Linked DNA regions of Homo sapiens: region 1 is linked to region 2. A link means that fine-mapping ties the variant in region 2 to the expression of a gene that starts in the linked region. Tissue or cell type: whole blood. Region 2 holds a variant in brackets; the other region holds the start of a gene. All regions are shown on one strand. Distances are between the middles of the regions.

Region 1 (6,732 bases), 26 kb after region 2:
CGCCTGGTACTGGCCTTCGGACTGCCGCTCTCTTTTGGACATTGATGTTGTCCCACCACTTGGCGAAGAAGGAGACCTCTGCCCAGAGGAAGCGCCGCCGGGGGTCCTCCTGCAGCTTAGACACCATGCTATTGAGGATGTGTTGGGTCTGCTCTGTGTAGTACTTGTCAAAGGTCTTGATCCAGCCTAGGGAGCCAATGTAGGGTCCCCTGAGGATGCCACCATCTTCTTCGACGTCCCTCCCTTGTATTGGCCATCAGAAATCCCACTCCACACTCCAGCTCCCAGGAGTCTGCAGGGCCCTCACCTGGGTCATTGTGAGAGTGGGGCACCACAAACACCTGCAGGTCTTCAGCATCCCAGTCGTGCGGGTCGTAGGAGATGTCGAAGCCTTGCCTCCACACACCACCATCCACGTTGTCAAACGGCAGCTCCTCCGACACAGTGAGCATCTGCCAGGTGAACTGCAGCTCAGTACCCCAGTCGTGGCCACTGTACGTCCCTGCCAGCTCTGACTCTTACCTGCAGCTCTGGCTTCTGACCCCGGCCCCCCAAAGCAAACTGGCAGTCCTGCGGGGAGATGGAGAAGAAGCTGGGCCGGGGCTCCGGTGGCACCACCCAGGAGCCATTGACCGTGTAGTAGGGCAGCATGGCGGGCGGGCCCTCTGCGTTGGCTGTCAGCTCCAGCACGGAGTCCTTGATATGGCTGATAATCTCATGGTTCTCCTCCAAAAGCTGCTCCAGCTGCTCAATGCGGTTCTGCAGCACAGAAATTTGGCTCTGCCAAAAAACCAGAAAGCAATCACACACAGCTCCTTATGCCACAGGGAGGGTCTCTGCTTGGGGTCTACCAGCTGAGGCCTGAGTACAATTCTTCCCTCATCAGTCAAAGCCAGACCATGAGCCTAGAGGGATAGATGACACCGTTCAGATAAAGGGAGCTGTGCAGATCACCACTGAGGACTACACTCCACTTGGGTTGGGAGAACCATCACTCTCTAGCTCAGGGATGGCAAAGATTTCCTTTCACCTACCTATTCTCAACAATCGGTGTTGCCTGTGCTGAGGATTTCAGCGGGGCTTAATGGCAAAGAATGCTGCAATCAATTAGCAATGTCTGCCAAGAATTCAGGAGGGGCTGGGCGCGGTGGCCCACACCTGTAATCCCAGCACTTTGGGAGGCCAAGGTGGGTGGATCACCTGAGGTCAGGAGTTCAAGACCAGCCTGGCCAACATGGCGATACCTCGTCTCGTCTCTACTAAAAATACAAAAATTAGTCGGGCATGGTGGCAGGCTCCTGTAGTCCCAGCTACTTGGGAGGCTGAGGCAGGAGAATTGCTTGAACCTGGGAGGCGGAGGTTGCAGTGAGCCAAGATCGCGCCACTGCACTCAAGGCTGGGCGACAGAGCGAGACTCTGTCTCAAAAAAAAAAAAAAGAAAGAAAAGAATTCAGGAGAACAGAGTGACAATACTCATTGCCATTGACATTTTTTCTTCCTTCCTTCTTTTCGCCATCACTGTTTTTAGCTGAGGGTTTCTACAAAACCTGACTATTGGGAAGGAAGGCTCCTGTCCTGTACTGACATTACCCTCCAGCGGGGGGTGGGAGGGGAGGCGGCGGGGTGGGAGGTGCATACCCTGAGCCCAGGTGACTTGTATACAAAGAAATTAGCAACCAGGCACGACTCACCCGGGGGAAGTTCCCACCATTCTGGTGTCGGGTGGGATCGTGTTGCACTCGGTCCAGCATGAGGTAGAGCGAGAAGACTGCCACACAGAAGATGGCAGCCCCACACACTGTCACCTGCTTTTTCAGCTTCATACTGGCCTCCACACACACCTGGCAGGAAGGACACCATCTGTAGCTCCAACATGCAAAATGCCCGTGGCAGTCTTTCCACCAAATACCCCAGTGAGTTCCTGAGGGCTGTTCCAAAGGAACACCCATTTGCCTGGCTCCAAGTAGCACAAGCAGCACATCTGAGGCTGGCCCACCTGGTCCTGGTAGCAGCTCTGCCGCTAGGGTGGAGAGGACGCTCTCCTTTGGCTGGTGCTATGAAAAACGGGCCCAGGATAAGAGTCCCAGCTCCGACTGGAGCGCACCACACAAGCTCCTGATTACACAGCTTCCCTGCCTAGATAGGAGGTGCCTGTTCAGGCTCCTCGGCCATGTGCTTCTAGTTTCAGGTGAATAAGCTAGTCTCTATTTTGTTTGATTTAAAAGTTTAGCCAGAACCCAAAGAGACTGATAGGAAAGCCTTTCTCAGTGCCCTTTCGGGTCAAACTGGCACTCACCAGAAACAGTGCCTGGCACGATCCTTTCTCAGAAACACAGAATGAGTTTCTTTCTAATAAAGAAGAAAGATGCTTGTGTTTCTAGCATAAAGCAAGCCCTGTGTGTTCTCCCTGTTTCTCTACTGTTCACTGCAGTGGGAAACTTCCAGCCGCGGTTTGCAGAGCACTTAGGGGACCCCTAGGAAGCCTGCAGTGACGCCGAAGGCCCCCTGGGAAGGGAGAGACGGGGCCCAGTGCTCAGCTGCGAGGCAACTTCAGGGGACCCGTGCCCCCCGCCGCCACCGCCCTCGGGCTCCGCTTGCCTGCTCAGGAGGAAGGAGGACGCTAACTGCGGAGCCGAGCGTGGGCGGGACCGCGCTCCGGAGTCTGCTCCGCGGGCCCTGGGGCCGAGGAGCTTTGTCGCCTCTGCGTTGTGCCCTACTTAGCGCGATCTGATTCTGCTCGGGAGCTTCCGGGCAATATTTTCAGCCCTTAGAGACTGGGTCTAGGCCAATGTGGGTGGAGCTGGGGAGAGAGTTGGATCACAGAGGGCAGGCACCTGCCGCCAGGTCTCTGGCCGCCCGCCCGGCTCCCTCCCCACCCGCTCCGACTTCGTCGGCCCCGGGGACCGCAGAGACAGGCGCCAGGTACGGGCCTCAGGCAGCCTCCTGTCCCTTCCTGGCCCCTCTGACGCCGCAGTGGCGCTCGCACTCCCGCCGCCCGAGCCCGGCCTCTGTCGGGGCAGCCGGAGCCCTCCCGCGCGCGCACCCGGCCCGTTACCGTCAGCGCCCGGCCTCCGCGCCGCTCCGGGCCCAGTCGGCCGAGCTGCCGGCTCTCACACGCCCGGGGACGGCGGCCCGCGTGCAGGCAGCGACGCAGGCGAAGGCGGGCGCCCGCCCACCCGTAGCCCCCTGCTCCGCGCGCCGCTGCCGCGCTCCCGCTGGGCCCCGGGCCGCCGGCGCGCTCCGCTGCGCCGGCCCCGCGCGGGTCCGCCAGCCTCTGAAGCTGCCGGGCCCAGCAGCGTGCGGGGCGGGGACAGCCGCGCCGCCCGCCCCGGCCTGCGTGTGCCCGGCGGAGCTGACAGGAGCTCTGGCCGCCGCGGTCCCCGCCCGGCTCCTCCCGGGCCCGCTCCGCTGGGCTGCAGTGCGCAGCCGCACCAGCCCGGGCCGGGCCTGGCCAGCTGCGGAACCTCAGGAGGGACGCGCGACTGAATTTTTTCGGAATCCTACTTGAGTAAGCGCATGATCGGGCAGTGGTCGAAACGCCCGCCTCCGTCTCGGCAGACGCGTAGCGGGGTGCGTTCTCCGCGGCCTCACCCGGCTCCGGCCCAGGTAGCCTTAGGTCTCTGTCGTTGCGCCCCTCGGGCAAAGGGGTGCTGCCTCCTGTCGGTACAGCGCATTCCTCGAGTCCCTTTCCTTTCCGTGCCTGCTCTATGTTTCCTGCCAGCGAGTGAACAAGACACAGACTTTTCTTGGCTGTTTCCCTTTTACTGGGCATCTAGGTTGTTTACAGTTTTTCAGTGTAATCCATACTGCAATGAACATCTCCATGAATTCCACATTTTTGTTCTTTTTAAGTTATATATAACATTATCTGAATGTGACCCCCCAAATTCATGTTCAAATCCTAATCCCTCAAGGTGATGATGGTATTAGGAGATGGGCCTTTGGGGGTGAACAGAGTTTGAAGGGAGAGCTCTCATGAATGGGATTAGTGCCGGTATCAAATGACCCCGAGAGTCGGCCCCTTCAACCACGTGAGAACACAGCTAGAAGGCACTATCTGTGCACCACAGGCAGGCCCTCACCCGACACTGAATCCGCTTATGCCTTATCATGGACTTTCCAGCCTCCAGAACTGTGAGAAAATACATTTCTGTTGTTGATAAACTACCTACTTTATGGTATTTTGTCCTAACAGCCCGAACAGATTAAGACGTTATTTTATGATGAATTTGCAACAGTGAAGTTACCCGGGCAAAAGATAAGGACAGAGATGACTGATGACACTATCGCTCCCCCAAAAGACTGTACCAGTTTACACCATCAATAACAAACTGCTGGATATTGCTTAAACAATGTTTTAGCTGATTAATGAGATATATAATGCCATCTCATTTTTAAAAATTTTCCTTTAAGTTCTGGGATACATGTGCAGAACATGCAGATTTGTTACATAGGTATACATGTGCCATGGTGGTTTGCTGCACCCATCAACCCATCATCTAGGTTTTAAGCCCCACATACATTAGGTGCTCTCCCTCACCTTGCCCCCAACCCCCGACAGGCCCCGGTGTGTGATGTTCCCCTCTCTGTGTCCATGTGTTTTCATTGTTAACTCCCACTTATTAGTGAGAACATGCGGTGTTTGGTTTTCTGTTCCTGTGTTAGTTTGCTGAGAATGATCAATGCTATCTCTTATTTAACGACCATTTCTTTTTTTTGAGACAATATCTCACTGTTTCCCAGGCTGGAGTGCAGTGGCACCATCTCAGCTCACTGCATCTTTGACCTTCCAGACTCAAGCCATCCTCCCACTTCAGCCTCCTGAGTAGCTGAGCCTTACAGGTATGTGCCACTACACCCAGCTAATTTTTTTATTTTTTAATTTTTTTATTTTTATTTTTTGAGACGGAGTTTCGTTCTTGTTGCCCAGGCTGGAGTGCAATGGCGCGATCTTGGCTCACTGCAACCTCCGCCTCCCAGGTTCAAGCGATTCTCCTGCCTCAGCCTCCCAAATAGCTGGGACTACAGGCACGTGCCACCATACCTGGCTAATTTTGTGTTTTTAGTAGAGATGGGGTTTTACCATGTTGTCCAGGCTGGTCTCGAACTCCTGACCTCAGGTGATCCACCTGCCTCAGCCTCCCAAAGTGCTGGGATTACAGGCGTGAGTCACTGTGCCCGGCCCTAATTTTTTTATTTTTTGTGGTGGGTGGGAGGGTCTCACTGTGTTGCCCAGGCTGTTCTCCAACTCCTGGGCTCAAGCGATCCCCCCACTTTGGCCTTCCAAAGTTCCAGGATTACAGATATGAGCCATAGTGCCCAGCTCTTTTTATTTTTTTATTGTTTTTGACAAGCTCTTGTCTGTCACCCAGGCTGGAGTGCAGTGGTGTGATCATGGTTCACTGCAGCCTCGAACTCCTGGCCTTGATCCTCCTGCCTCAGCTTCCCAAAGTGCTGTGATTACAGGGATAAGCCACTGCACTCGACTGCCACTTCTTTTATCACCATCAGGAACAGCTTTCCAGGTTTGTTTACTCACTGGAATGCCTGTTATTAGGGTGTTAGACCTAGACTGGGCTCATCATCCTCTTTGTCTTTTCATATTTTGCCTTGTGTTCTGGGAGATTTATTTTCCAGCCCTTCTATTGAATTTTCCATTTTGGTAATTTTTTTTTTTTTTTTTTTTTTTTTGAGACAAAGTCTCACTCTGTCGCTCAGGCTGAAGAGTGGTGGCGTGATCTCAGCTCACTGCAACCTCTGCTTCCCAGGTTCAAGTGATTCTTGTGCTTCAGCCTCCCGAGTAGCTGGGATTAGAAGCGCGCACCACCATGCCCAGCTAATTTTTGTATTTTTAGTAGAGATGGGGTTTCACCATGTTGGCCAGGCTGGTCTTGAACTCCTGACCTCAGGTGATTTGCCCACCTCGGCCTCCCAAAGTGTTGGGATTACAGGCGTGAGCCACCGTGCTCAGCCTCATTTTGGTGATAATCTTCTTTTTTCCTTCGTTTTGAGAGGGAGTTCTGCTCTTGTTGCCCAGGCTGGAGTGCAATGGCGTGATCTCCACTCACCACAACCTCTGCCTCTGGATTCGAGTGATTCTCTTGCCTCAGCCTCCTGAGTAGCTGGGATTACAGGCATCTGCCACCACGCCTGGCTAATTTGGTATTTTTAGTAGGGATAGGGTTTCTCCATGTTGGTTGGACTCGTCTCGAACTCCCAACCTCAGGTGATCTGCCCACCTCAGCCTCCCAAAGTGCTGGGATTACAGGCATGAGCCACCGCGCCCAGCCTGATAATCTCAATTTTCAAGAATTCTTGTTTGTTGTCTGGTGGTTCTTTTTTAAAAATTTAGGTACAGTTTACACTGTGTGGCACAAATCTTAAGTGTACAGCTTGATGGGTTTTGATAAATACATACACAAGCATAATCACCACCCAGATCAAAATGCAGGACATTCCCATCTACCCAAAATGTTCCCGTGTTAAGTGGCCAAGCAGTCCCTAAGCACACCATAGTGGCTGTCAGACTGTGGTCCAGCCTTGCCTATGTGGCCCATGTAGAGACACACATGGTTGTAAGGGCACCATGGTGAACCTTTTCCCCTCCATCTTCACACGCCTTTCCATCAGGACCCTCCAGACATAAGCACTGCTTTGACTTCTCTGTAACTTAGTTTTGCCTGTTCTTGAACTTCATAAAATAGAATCATAAGTATGAACTCTTTTCATGTC
Region 2 (7,836 bases):
CCGTTTAAGCCTCATAACAATTGGAACGGTAGGCATGATCGTTCCCTTTGTCGGTTGGCTCCCAGAGGGTAAGGTACTTGACCAAGGTCACCCAGCTAGTCAGAGTCCACAAGGGGCCACATCTGGCTCTCCAAAACCCACAACACACCGCCTTGGGACTACCTCCGACCTGACTTCCTGCTTTGCCCCTCCCCGTCAGGTGTGGCACGGATCCTGACCCACGAGGCGGGAATCACTGACATTGTGGTGTTACAGGTAACTTTCCCCCTTCTCTGCCAGGAGCCTGGGATGGGGATTAGGGGCCCCATTCAGCAATGGGCAACCCTTGGCTGACATCTCAGGGCTGAGTGGGAACTTGTCCCCAGGCGGCCCTGCTCCATGACACGGTGGAGGACACAGACACCACCCTGGATGAGGTGGAGCTACACTTTGGGGCACAAGTGCGGCGCCTGGTGGAGGAGGTAACAGATGACAAGACTCTGCCCAAGCTGGAGAGAAAGAGGCTGCAGGTGGAGCAAGCGCCCCACAGTAGCCCCGGGGCCAAACTGGTGAAGCTGGCAGACAAGCTGTACAATCTGAGGGACCTGAATCGCTGCACCCCAGAGGGTACGCTTTCGTATGGGCTGTAAGGGAAAAGGGAGGGGGATGCCGCCTTCTGAAGACACATGTTGGTCAGTTCCCCTGAAAAACCCTGGGCATTCTTAATTCCCAAATTAATCCTACTGGACCACTCTTTGATCTTCTTTCATACAGTAAAAATACAATAGCTGGGCCAAGGGGAAGTTTTCAGGACAGCTCATTCCATCAGGAACTCATGGCCTTGAACCAAGCTTGCCAGGAAGTGGGGAAAAGGCAGTGCTTTCCTTGACATCACGCTAGCAAGTTTCTGTCGACTCTTATGCAGGATGGTCAGAACATCGAGTCCAGGAATACTTCGAGTGGGCAGCGCAGGTGGTGAAGGGGCTTCAGGGAACAAACCGGCAACTGGAAGAGGCTCTAAAGCATCTGTTCAAGCAGCGGGGGCTGACAATCTGATCAGTGCTTGAAGCTATCCAGAGGCACAACTCCAGCCTCGTTCAGGCCGGACAGGATTCATACGCCATCTTTTCTGTGTCTCCTGAGCTCCCTCCATCCTTCCCAGATATTAGAGGCCAAAAAAAGACTTGCATTTTTTCTCAGTCTGAAGGTCTCCTGCTAACTAAGCTGAGCCCCGCGTGGTGGGAATCAGATGTACCCATCCATTTCTGATGCACTCACCGCCTCTCCCCAAGTCTTGGGTCTGTTTGCTATTTTGCATGGTGGGATCTCTGGCCCCTCAGGGACTTGAGATTATTTAAGTACTAGTTCCTAACACGTTCTGGAAAATAAAAATAACTCTGGGTTAAGGTTTAAGCTGCTGCTGCTCCTTCTCCAGCCTCCGACTGGTGGGCTGCATATCTTTCCTTCAGCAAAGCAGGACTAATTGTGTGTCCCGGAGTCACCTCCCTCAGGTTGCGGGCCTCAACCCCTCCGAACCTGGCTTCCTTGTCAGTGACATGGGTTGTGTAATTATCAGGTTAGACTGTGACGTGCCTGATGGAGCCTGACACATAGGTGCTCAAGAAATGGTAGCAGCCTTTCCCGTTAAGAAAGTTGGAAGGGGGCCAGGCGCGGTGTCTCTCGCCTGTAATCCCAGCACTCTGGGAGACCGAGGCGGGCGGATCACTTGAGGTCAGGAGTTCAAGACCAGCCTGGCCAGCATGGCGAGGCCCCGTCTCTACTAAAAATACAAAAAAAAATTAGCCGGGCGCAGTGGCTCGCGCCTGTAATCCCAGCTACTCAGGAGGCTGAGGCAGGAGACTCGCTTGAACCCGGGAGGCGGAGTTTGTACTGAGCCGAGATCGCGCCACTGCACTCCAGCTTGGGTGACACAGCGAGACTCCGTCTCAAAAATGAAAAAAGAAAAGACGTATCGGAAGGGAGTGCCGCCCGCTTACTGACAACCACTGCTGGGCACCGGAGAGACCCCAGCAGCAACATGATTGGGCCGGTGGGGGATTCCGGTTCCCCAGTACCTCAAGCCGCGCGGGAAACTCGGTGACTCGCAATCCCCTCGCCCTTCCGCATTGCGGGTTACTTCGGTTGTTAAGTGACAGGGACTTCCGGGAAGGCCCGGAAGTGGCCCGGGGCTGTCCGACCCCGGGAGCCCGGCGGTCGGCGTAGGGGAGGCGGTGGAACTTTGCTCGGTGGCCATGGGGAGGGATTGCCCGGTGGTGGTTTTTCAGTCGTTGCTGAGCAGCTGAGGTTTATTTTTATGTATTTTATTCTGCATCCAGTCATCCATTAAAGCCAAAGTTTATTAAGTTGTCTGGAAAAGCGATCATCTTGGGTACGAGGAAATTGTTAGGTCAAAGCTGTTCGACTACGATAGTTGTTTGCCCAAGTGAAGGCCCCAGCGGAGGGCTCTGCGAAAAAGTAGGTGAAAGGCAACCAAAAAAGCCGAATTAAAAGAAAACAAATGAACAAAGTTCAGAGTAATCCCCAGGGTATGGTACATTTTGGAGAACTTTGAACTTAATTTTTTTAAATAGTTTTGCGGGAGTAAGATAACGAGATTTTTTTAAGAAAAGATGACTTTGTTGTAGTCCACTTTATATATTTTGTTGCCTGTGTTTTTAGTGTCATATCTAAGAAATCGTTGCCAAATCTAATGCCATGAAGCTTTTCCTGTTTTCTTCTAGGAGCTTTCGTTTTAGCTTTTTTTTTTGAGACGGAGTTTCACTCTTGTTGCCCAGGCTGGAGTGCAATGGTGCCATCTCTGCTCACCATAACCTCCGCTTCCCGGGTTCAAGCTATTCTCCTGCCTCAGTCTCCCGAGTAGCTGGGATAACAGGCGTGCGCCACCACGCATGGCTAATTGTTGTATTTTTAGTAGTGACGGGATTTATCCTTGCTGCCCAGGCTGGTCTTTAACTCCTGACTTCAGGTGATCCACCCGCCTTGGCCTCCCAAAGTTATCGTTTTAGCTCTTACAAGTAAAGTTTTTGATCCATTTTGGGTTAAATTTCTTTTTAAATCAATTTAATTTGGTATAAGGTATACATGATGTTATGAGGCTACATACAGGTAGTAAAAAGGTTACTATAGTGAAGCAAATTAACACATCCATCATTTCACGTAGTTACCCAATTTTTTGTTGTTTTTGTGGCAAGAACATTTTGGGTTAATTTTTGTATATGGTGTAATTTTTTTGTATATACACCATATACAAAATATATGATGTATGGTTTTGCTTGTGGATGTCCAGTTTTCCTAGCACCATTTGATGCAAGGTCTGTCCTCTTAGTACCTGTTTTTGGATTTTTTTATTTTTTATTTTTTAGTAGAGATGGCGTTCCACTAAGTTGGCCACACTGGTCTCGAACTCCTGACCTCAGGTGATCTGCCCACCTCAGCCTCCCAAAGTGCTGGGATTACAGGCGTGAGCCACTGTGCCCAGCCTTGAATAACTCTTCACAATATTGCTTTCTAGAATTTTAGTTCCTGCCTCTTTTTAAACTATAAACTAGTATTACATTTATAGCCAGTATTTAGGTGTACCCTCCCTCTCATTAGTTTATGCCCCTAGACAAATTCTCTTTTTGCTTAAGTACACCTACTTTCTTCCACTAAAGTTTTGTACATTGCAAACTGTTGAGTCTTTGCATGTCTGAAAATGTCTTCATTTCCCCCGTGCTCTTGAATGGTGTAGCTGATAGCAAATTCAAGGCTGAGTTTTCTCTAGGTTTGAATGGACTCCAGGTGTCTACTGTAGCTAACTAGATGTCTGCTATCACTGTGATTGTCTTTCCTTTGTAAGACTTTTCTATTTTTTTTTTTTTGAACAGCATCTCCAATTTGCATTCATAAAATTATTAATCCAAATTGCGAAAGTAGACTTTTACAGAGTCACAGGTCAGTAACAAAACAGGAAATGAAATGTTCCAGAGCCTTTTTTTTTTTTTAAGATGGATTCT[C/T]GCTCTGTCACCCAGGCTGGAGTACAGTGGCGCAATCTCGGCTCACTGCAACCTCTGCCTCCTGGGTTCAAGCGATTCTTATGCCACAGCCTCCCTAGTAGCTGGGATTACAGATGTGTGCCACCACGCCCGGCTAATTTTTGTATTTCTAGTAGAGACAGGGTTTCACCATGCTGGCCAGGCTGGTCTCAAACTCCTGACCTCAAGTTATCCGCCTGCCTTGGCCTCCCAAAGTGCTGGGATTACAGGCATGAAGCCATCGTGCCCGGCCTCCAGAGACATTTTGATAAGTTCCAAAGAAACACACTAGGCAGGCTGGGTGCAGAGGCTCACGCCTGTAATCCCAGCAATTTGGGAGGCCCAGGCGGGTGGATCACGAAGTCAGGAGATCGAGACCATCCTGGCTAACATGGTGAAACCCCGTCTCTACTAAAAATACAAAAAAATTAGCCGGGCATGGTGGCGGGCACCTGTAGTCCCAGCTACTCGGGAGGCTGAGGCAGGAGAATCACTTGAACCCAGGAGGCGGAGGTTGCAGTGAGCCAAGGTCATGCCACTGCACTCCAGCCTGGGAGACAGAGCAAGACTCCGTCTCAAAAAAAAAAAAAAAAAAAAAGGCCAGTGTGGTGGCTCACGCCTGTAATCCCAACACTTTGGGAGGCCGAGGCGGGTGGATCATGAGGTCAGGAGATCAAGACCATCCTGGCTAACACGGTGAAACCCTGTCTCTACTAAAACTACAAAAAATTAGCCAGGCGTGGTGGCGGGCGCCTTTAGTCCCAGCTACTTGGGAGGCTGAGGCAGGAGAATCACTTGAACCTGGGAGGCAGAGGTTGCAGTGAGCCGAGATCACGCCACTGCACTCCAGCTTGGGCGACAGAGCTAGACTCCGTCTCAAAAAAAAAAAAAAAAAAAAAAAAGCTAGGCTAAAAATCTACAGTTAAACCATGGTTGTACAACAGGTTATATTCATTCCTGCAGTTTCTCAATAAGTTCTTATATTTGCCTTTCTCTTTTGAGAGTGAATCCCACTCACTCTATTGCCAAGGCTGGAGTGCAGTGGCATGATCTCAGCTAACTGCAACCTCCACCTCCCTGGTTTAAGCTATTCTTCTGCCTCAGCCTCCTGAGTAGCTTTGACTACAGGCGCATGCCACCAGCCCAGCTAATTTTTGTATTTTTAGTACAGACAGGGTTTTGCCATGTGGGCCAGGCCGATCTCAAACTCCTGACCTCAGGTGATCCACCCACCTTGGCCTCCCAAAGTGCTGGAATTACAGGCGTGAGCCACCGTGCCTGGCCTTTAGGTTTTATCTTACGTAATTTGCAATATATCTACACGAGGTTTTTTAAATTGTTTTAATTTTTTTGAGACGGAGTCGTGCTCTGTCGCTCAGGATGAAGTGCAGTGGCATGATCTTGGCTATTTGCAACCTCCATCTCCCAGGTTCAAGCGATTCTTCTGCCTCAGCCTTCCAAGTAGCTGGGATTACAGGCTATAGGCACACACCAGCATGCCCCGCTACATTTTGATTTTTCTGGTTTTTGGGTTTTTTTGTATTTTTAGTAGAGACAGGGTTTCACCACGTTGGCCAGGCTAGTCTCAAACTCCTGACCTCAAGTGATCTGCCCACGTTGGCCTCCCAAAGTACTGGGATTATAGACATGAGCCACTGCACCTGGCCTGTTTATTTATTTATTTGTTTGTTTGTTGTTGTTGTTGTTGTTTTGAGACGGAGTCTCACTCTGTCGCCCAGGCTGGAGTGCAGTGGCGCGATCTCGGCTCACTAAAACCTCTGCCTCCGGGTTCATGCCATTCTCCTGCCTCAGCCTCCCAAGTAGCTGAGACTACAGGCGCCCGCCACCATGCCCGGCTAATTTTTTGTACTTTTAGTAGAGACAAGGTTTCACCATGTTAGCCAGGATGGTCTCGATCTCCTGACCCCATGATCCGCCCGCCTCGGCCTCCCAAAGTGCTGGGATTACAGGGGTGAGCCACCGCGCCCAGCTATCTATTTTTTTTGAGATGGAGTCTTGCTCTGTCACCCAGGCTGGAGTGCAGTGGTGCGATCTCGGCTCACTGCAACCTCTGCCTCCTGGGTTCTCGCCATTCTCCTGCCTCAGCCTCCTGAGTAGCTGGGACTACAGGCGCCTGCCACCTGGCCCAGCTAATTTTTTTGTATTTTTTTAGTAGTGACGGGATCTCACCATGTTAGCCAGGATGGTCTCGATCTCCTGACCTCATGTTCCACCCGCCTCGGCCTCCCAAAGTGCTGGGATTACAGGCATGAGCCACCGCACCCGGCCTGGCCTTTTTTTTTAAATGTACCTTTCTTGGAACTTAATGAGCTCTTTGATTCTGAGATCTCACATCTTTCTTCAGTTCTGAAAAATTCACCGTCTTTGTTTTCTCATCCCTGTATTCTCACTAGTCTTTTTTTCTAAAACTGCTATGAAACATTATGCCAAAGCTTCTCAGTCTATCCTCCATCTGTCTTAGCTTCTTTTTTATATTTCTTTTATCACTGTGGTGCATTCTGGGTGATTCCTCAGTTGTTTTCCAGACCTGCTAAATTTTTATGTCATCTGCCTCCAGTCTAGGGCTTATACCATACATAGAGTATATTTCAATAATTGTATTTTTACATTTCCAGCATGTATAATTTGTAAAATCTTATTTGCTTCTTTTCAGTCAGTTTCTCATTGCAAGACTGAATATCTTTAGCTCTTTGGTGATTGCACATATATATTTTTTAAAGTATTTTTTTAGATTGCTTGCATGTCATCCTGTTTTTGTTTGCAACTTACATTTTTCCTGCCTGTGTACCTCTCAGAGTCTGGTTCTGGTCCCTTGACGTTCCTAGGTTACACTTGGTTACCTGTCCCACGTGGACTTTGAAGTCCCAGCACCTACCATCCTGAACTAGTCTCTACTTCTCTCAAGCTGTATAGCCTCAGCCTCTGCTAATGGCTGTATTATTCTCTCCATTCTTTGTCAAAGAAGATTTCCTTTATTTTGAGTTTGACAGTTTTTGCTTTCTTTTTTTTTTTTTTTTTTTTTTTTTTGAGATGGAGTCTTGCTCTGTTGCCCAGGCTGGAGTGCAATGGCAAGATCTCAGCTCACTGCAACCTCTGCCTCCTGGGTTCAAGTGATTCTCGTGCCTCAGCCTCCCAAGTAGCTGGGATTACAGGCGCCCACCACCACACCCGGCTAATTTTTGTATTTTTTAGTAGAGATGGGGTTTCGCCATGGTGGTCTGGCTGGTCTGGAACTCCTGACCTCAGGTGATCTGCCTGCCTCGGCCTCCCAAAGTGCTGGGCTGTGCCCGGCCTGTTTTTACATTTTTAGTATTTATTTAGCAATCTCTGGCATTAGGAGTTGAGAGGGCAGAATTATAGGTGTGCTTGCGCCTCTAGTTGGAATGCAAGTCTCTAGGTATGTTAGTCTGTGCTGTTATGACAAAAATACCTGAGACTGGGTAATTTATAAAGAACAGAAATTCGTTTTCTCACAGTTCTAGAAGCAGGAAGTCCAAGATGAAGGTGCTGGCAGGTTCGGTGTCTAGCGAGGGCTGCTTTTTGCTTCCAAGGTGGTCACTGCATCCTCACACAGTAAAAAAGGCAGGCTGTGTGAAGCCTCTTTCATTAGGGCCTTAATCCTATTCACGAGGGAGAAGCTCTCATGACCTAATCACCTTCTAAAGGCCCCACCTCTTAATATGCTGCATTGGAGGTTAAGTTTCAGTATGAATTTGAGAGGGACACAAATATTCAAACTTGCGGGAGGCATGCTGACTGGGAAACCCCAGTCCTTCCTACTCCACTGAGGGGCCTTCTCTAG

The links. PIP is the estimated chance that this variant, and not a neighbour inherited with it, causes the effect.
Region 1: it holds the start of MAN2A2, and the variant in region 2 is fine-mapped to the expression of MAN2A2 in whole blood (TOPMed, PIP above 0.99).

What each region holds. Positions count from the first base shown.
Region 1 is chr15:90,899,299-90,906,030 of GRCh38, reverse strand. It overlaps MAN2A2 (mannosidase alpha class 2A member 2), which reads right to left and starts at 2,729. Exons shown (of 23, transcript NM_006122.4): 1 at 2,599-2,729; 2 at 1,692-1,841; 3 at 523-780; 4 at 308-452; 5 at 15-186. The coding sequence starts at 1,823. RefSeq lists enhancers at 1,739-1,798, 3,639-3,688 and silencers at 2,749-3,178, 3,199-3,468.
Region 2 is chr15:90,924,474-90,932,309 of GRCh38, reverse strand. It overlaps HDDC3 (HD domain containing 3), which reads left to right. Exons shown (of 4, transcript NM_001286451.2): 2 at 200-255; 3 at 366-606; 4 at 905-2,342. The coding sequence ends at 1,035. It also overlaps a transcript of UNC45A not described here. Among named protein-coding and RNA genes, the nearest start is that of HDDC3, 4.2 kb to the left of the region's middle. RefSeq lists enhancers at 364-593, 2,224-2,453. The variant C/T (reference allele first, on the strand shown) is at 3,996.